Regions from separate parts of the Homo sapiens genome. Here region 1 is linked to region 2. Evidence: fine-mapped expression QTL. A gene starts in region 2. The other region holds a variant in brackets. All regions are shown on one strand. Distances are between the middles of the regions. Region 1 has its middle 20 kb from the start of CCDC152. Region 2 holds the start of RIMOC1 (RAB7A interacting MON1-CCZ1 complex subunit 1).

Evidence for each region. PIP is the estimated chance that this variant, and not a neighbour inherited with it, causes the effect.
Region 1: its variant is the best candidate, but not a certain one, in a credible set for the expression of RIMOC1 in fibroblasts (GTEx, PIP 0.84).

The regions. Positions count from the first base shown.
Region 1 is chr5:42,735,595-42,738,506 of GRCh38, reverse strand. No RefSeq gene overlaps it. Among named protein-coding and RNA genes, the nearest start is that of CCDC152, 20 kb to the left of the region's middle. The variant T/C (reference allele first, on the strand shown) is at 1,530.
Region 2 is chr5:41,902,572-41,905,483 of GRCh38, reverse strand. It overlaps RIMOC1 (RAB7A interacting MON1-CCZ1 complex subunit 1), which reads right to left and starts at 1,140. Exons shown (of 6, transcript NM_175921.6): 1 at 1,017-1,140. The coding sequence starts at 1,116. RefSeq lists enhancers at 1,038-1,157, 910-1,456, 1,568-1,707.

The DNA of each region.
Region 1 (2,912 bases), 830 kb before region 2:
ACATCTATTGAGATAATCATGTGGTTTTTGTCTTTGGCTCTGTTTATATGCTGGATTACATTTATTGATTTGCATATATTGAACCAGCCTTGCATCCCAGGGATGAAGCCCACTTGATCATGGTGGATAAGCTTTTTGATGTGCTGCTGGATTCGGTTTGCCAGTATTTTATTGAGGATTTTTGCATCAATGTTCATCAAGGATATTGGTCTAAAATTCTCTTTTTTGGTTGTGTCTCTGCCCGGCTTTGGTATCAGAATGATGCTGGCCTCATAAAATGAGTTAGGGAGGATTCCCTCTTTTTCTATTGATTGGAATAGTTTCAGAAGGAATGGTACCAGTTCCTCCTTGTACCTCTGGTAGAATTCGGCTGTGAATCCATCTGGTCCTGGACTCTTTTTGGATGGTAAACTATTATTGCCACAATTTCAGCTCCTGTTATTGGTCTATTCAGAGATTCAACTTCTTCCTGGTTTAGTCTTGGAAGAGTGTATGTGTCGAGGAATGTATCCATTTCTTCTAGATTTTCTAGTTTATTTGCATAGAGGTGTTTGTAGTATTCTCTGATGGTAGTTTGTATTTCTGTGGGATCGGTGGTGATATCCCCTTTATCATTTTTTATTGTGTCTATTTGAGTCTTCTCTCTTTTTTTCTTTATTAGTCTTGCTAGCGGTCTATCAATTTTGTTGATCCTTTCAAAAAACCAGCTCCTGGATTCATTGATTTTTTGAAGGGTTTTTTGTGTCTCTATTTCCTTCAGTTCTGCTCTGATTTTAGTTATTTCTTGCCTTCTGCTAGCTTTTGAATGTGTTTGCTCTTGCTTTTCTAGTTCTTTTAATTGTGATGTTAGGGTGTCAATTTTGGATCTTTCCTGCTTTCTCTTGTGGGCATTTAGTGCTATAAATTTCCCTCTACACACTGCTTTGAATGCGTCCCAGAGATTCTGGTATGTTGTGTCTTTGTTCTCGTTGGTTTCAAAGAACATCTTTATTTCTGCCTTCATTTCATTATGTACCCAGTAGTCATTCAGGAGCAGGTTGTTCAGTTTCCATGTAGTTGAGCGGCTTTGAGTGAGATTCTTAATCCTGAGTTCTAATTTGATTGCACTGTGGTCTGAGAGATAGTTTGTTATAATTTCTGTTCTTTTACATTTGCTGAGGAGAGCTTTACTTCCAACTATGTGGTCAATTTTGGAATAGGTGTGGTGTGGTGCTGAAAAAAATGTATATTCTGTTGATTTGGGGTGGAGAGTTCTGTAGATGTCTATTAGGTCTGCTTGGTGCAGAGCTGAGTTCAATTCCTGGGTATCCTTGTTGACTTTCTGTCTCGTTGATCTGTCAAATGTTGACAGTGGGGTGTTAAAGTCTCCCATTATTAATGTGTGGGAGTCTAAGTCTCTTTGTAGGTCACTCAGGACTTGCTTTATGAATCTGGGTACTCCTGTATTGGGTGCATATATATTTAGGATAGTTAGCTCTTTTTGTTGAATTGATCCCTTTACCATTATGTAATGGCCTTCTTTGTCTCTT[T/C]TGATCTTTGTTGGTTTAAAGTCTGTTTTATCAGAGACTAGGATTGCAACCCCTGACTTTTTTTGTTTTCCATTTGCTTGGTAGATCTTCCTCCATCCTTTTATTTTGAGCCTATGTGTGTCTCTGCATGTGAGATGGGTTTCCTGAATACAGCACACTGATGGTTCTTGACTCTTTATCCAATTTGCCAGTCTGTGTCTTTTAATTGGAGAATTTAGTCCATTTACATTTAAAGTTAATATTGTTATGTGTGAATTTGATCCTGTCATTATGATGTTAACTGGTGATTTTGCTCGTTAGTTGATGCAGTTTCTTCCTAGTCTCGATGGTCTTTACAATTTGGCATGATTTTGCAGCGGCTGGTACCGGTTGTTCCTTTCCATGTTTAGCACTTCCTTCAGGAGCTCTTTTAGGGCAGGCCTGGTGGTGACAAAATCTCTCAGCATTTGCTTGTCTGTAAAGTATTTCATTTCTCCTTCACTTATGAAGCTTAGTTTGGCTGGATATGAAATCCTGGGTTGAAAATTCTTTTCTTTAAGAATGTTGAATATTGGCCCCCACTCTCTTCTGGCTTGTAGGGTTTCTGCCGAGAGATCCGCTGTTAGTCTGATGGGCTTCCCTTTCTGGGTAACCTGACCTTTCTCTCTGGCTGCCCTTAACATTTTTTCCTTCATTTCAACTTTGGTGAATCTGCCAATTATGTGTCTTGGAGTTGCTCTTCTCAAGGAGTATCTTTGTGGCGTTCTCTGTATTTCCTGAATCTGAACATTGGCCTGCCTTGCTAGATTGGGGAAGTTCTCCTGGATAATATCCTGCAGAGTGTTTTCCAACTTGGTTCTATTCTCCCCATCACTTTCAGGTACACCAATCAGATGTAGATTTGGTCTTTTCACATAGTCCCATATTTCTTGGAGGCTTTGCTCATTTCTTTTTATTCTTTTTTCTCTAAACTTCCCTTCTCGCTTCATTTCATTCATTTCATCTTCCATTGCTGATACCCTTTCTTCCAGTTGATCGCATCGGCTCCTGAGGCTTCTGCATTCTTCACGTAGTTCTCGAGCCTTGGTTTTCAGCTCCGTCAGCTCCTTTAAGCACTTCTCTGTATTGGTTATTCTAGTTATACATTCTTCTAAATTTTTTTCAAAGTTTTCAACTTCTTTGCCTTTGGTTTGAATGTCCTCCCGTAGCTCAGAGTAATTTGATCGTCTGAAGCCTTCTCTCAGCTCGTCAAAGTCATTCTCCATCCAGCTTTGTTCCGTTGCTGGTGAGGAACTGCGTTCCTTTGGAGGAGGAGAGGTGCTCTGCGTTTTTGAGTTTCCAGTTTTTCTGTTCTGTTTTTTCCCCATCTTTGTGGTTTTATCTACTTTTGGTCTTTGATGATGG
Region 2 (2,912 bases):
AACCTGGATGACATGGTGAACCCCGTTTCTACAAAATATGCCAAAGTTAGCCGGGCGAGATGGTGTGCGCCTGTTGTCCCACTACTAGAGGGGCTCCAGCCTGAGCAACAGAATGATACTCTGCCTCTAAAAACAAAACAAAACAAAACACTCCTGATAAATGATAATCTGGCAAAAAATATTCACTGAAACTAAGGCATTTCATCATAGACCCTATTTAATAACAAATTCACCAACTATTCAATCGCTTAAGAAAATGTTCCACCACTGTTTTCCTATGAGTCCGATGATATGAGTCAGTCCACAGAATTTTAAAAACTATCTGTAGTAATTGCTCAAACTCAAAAAGGAATAATGTAGAACCTAAAGGCAGCTGAGACGTAATGAAAAGAATTGGACTTAAATTCAGAAGGTTGAGGCAATTCCCTAGCCCAGTTTTTCCTAACAGCTTAGACCTTTCCAAAACAAGTATGCCAATACTTAACAGAGCCCTTGTGAGAACTGGCATGATGTATGGGGCAGAATAGTCTACACACCAATGTAAAGCTCTTCTATAGAATGTTGTTTTGAATCCAAAACGTAAAACGCAAATTACAACGCAGCAATGAAAAAGTGGAACTGTTATACATGTCTTTTTATCTTTACAGGATGCAAACCACCATAACTAATTTGAGTGTTATCATTCATCTTAGCCATTTATTTAAACTTCTGTATTTTATTTAGATTCTGCCCTTCTTCCAATCGCTACCGAGACAGTTTACACCAGCACGGATCTAGACAGATTTTCCATGGGTTCTGAATAATGCGGTTTTCGAAGACAACGCCTTGGCATTGTGAGTTCTGGGAAGTGGGCAATCGATGGCGCAGAGGGGCTCAGAAGCGACAGACCTCGGGTAACCACCTGCGGCCTGGGACCCAAAGGAACACAGGCCTCAGCCTCTAGCCCTCACAGCCATCGAGCGCCAGTACCTTAGCGCCGTCTGCCCCGCCCGCCTCCCTCTCCTCCGCTCCCTCACCATCTTCACCGGCAGCTTCGCTAAGTTGCTGTATGTGGGCCTGAGCCAGATCCCCGAGCTCTTCCACTCGTCTCACCACACTAGAGACTGCGGCCGCCATGGCCACAATCGGCGGGTGCGCCCCGGTCACGTGACCGTGTTGGCCCGCAATCACCTGATCCCCCGGCACGGGCGGGGCCTAGGGCGGACCTCTCCTGGTTGGTGGGAGGAGACATCAGCTCCGGAAGAGGGCTGGCCCAGGCCGGCAAAGGTCTTTCCGGGTCATTTTTCCCTCCTGGACTTCCCTTCCCTCCCATAATCCTGAGCAGCAAGGAGACTAGGGGCGGGTGTGACGTTGAGACACGCCTCTCTCTAGCCCCCTCCTGTAAGCCAATAGGGAGCCAGCCGTGCCCCTCGGCTGACCCAATCGGAAGTCAGCTCTCTCCGCCTGCCTCTTGGAAGACAGCTTGGTGACGTCTGGCTGGCAGGATGCGGATTGTCGTCCGCACTCCCACTTCCCTGTCCGGCGCGGGAAGCACAGTCTGGAGGGCGGACGCGAGGGTCTGGAGAGAGGACTGTCAGTTTTGGCCTTGTAGTAAGGAGGTTGCTAAAATAAAGTGATTATAATCTCCTGGTCCTAAATGGAAACCCGACCGGCCCCCTGTGTAACACATCCAAGTCTCCAAGAGTTTGTTGTACATCTGGATGGGGAGCTCCAAACACTAGTGGAGTTGCCAGTCTACATGGTTGAATATTGCTTTTGTAAATCTGATTTTTAGCAGTCGAATTTATCTCTGACCTCCCTTGGAGTTCACATTTAAAGTACTTTAGACATCTTGCGTCCAGTGGTAGTAAATTCTGCGGCCACAAAACTATTTTCATTTTTCTTTCATCTCAAGACCTTCCCTTAAGGCGCTAATTGTGCATGAGGTTCATCCTCTCAATCGGGAGTTTCAAAGCACTCAGTCAGCAAGTCTAACTTCACTTTGCATTCTGTGAATGCTTTCTTGCCTCTGGTCAAACAAATCGTTAACTCTGTGTATTCATTTCTCAGTTTGACACACTATATCTTGAATAATCTCCATCCTATTGTTTCTCATGGAAGGTAGTTTTTTATATGTAATAGAAAAATACTAAAAATAGAGAAAAAGTGTATTGTGATTTATAAGTGATTGACCACAATGACTCTCTAACTGACCTTTGTAATACCAGTTTCTTCTGACAATTCACCCTAAATATAGAGGACAGGAATCATGTATTTTGTGTCCTTGGTGCCTCATACAGTGCCTGGCACATATGCACTCTTGTCAACAAGCAAGATGGCAAGGGGATATGATGTGGTCTGTGGGAGTAGACAATTATTCAATAGTGTGGGAATTGTAGGTGAGGAAAAAAAGAATCTAAGTATAAACAAGAAGTTGAGAGAAGGCTTTCTCAACAAGGGATGGAGAAGGTGGTAGTTGAAGAGGGGCAAGTGCTGGAAGGTAGGGTGGAGAATGATCGTATCTGTACACAAAGGGGGAAAAATAGGGAAATAGGGATAAATTCAAAATGAAAGTAGGGAGCCAGCAATGGATAGAGAAAAGAGCAGAAGGTTACACCTGATGCCTTCTGAATCTTCTACAAGATGTAGAACTAAATGAAGCCTTCAGAAGATTTTACTAAACTTTTCAAAAAATAATTTTCAAAAAATAATTAACCTTTGATTAGGAATTTTCAGTCTCCTAGAAAATGTGTAATTTACCATTCTTAAACTACTTAAAAGAATTACCTGGACATGTGGGCAACAGACAAAGGCACAGCTGAAATATTTTGACTGTGGATCTACAAATTATCTCTGCAGAAGTGTTTTACTCTCAGGTCCACTGTTCTTCTCAGGCTTTTATAAAAGACATCTTAGGATCTATGTAATCAGGT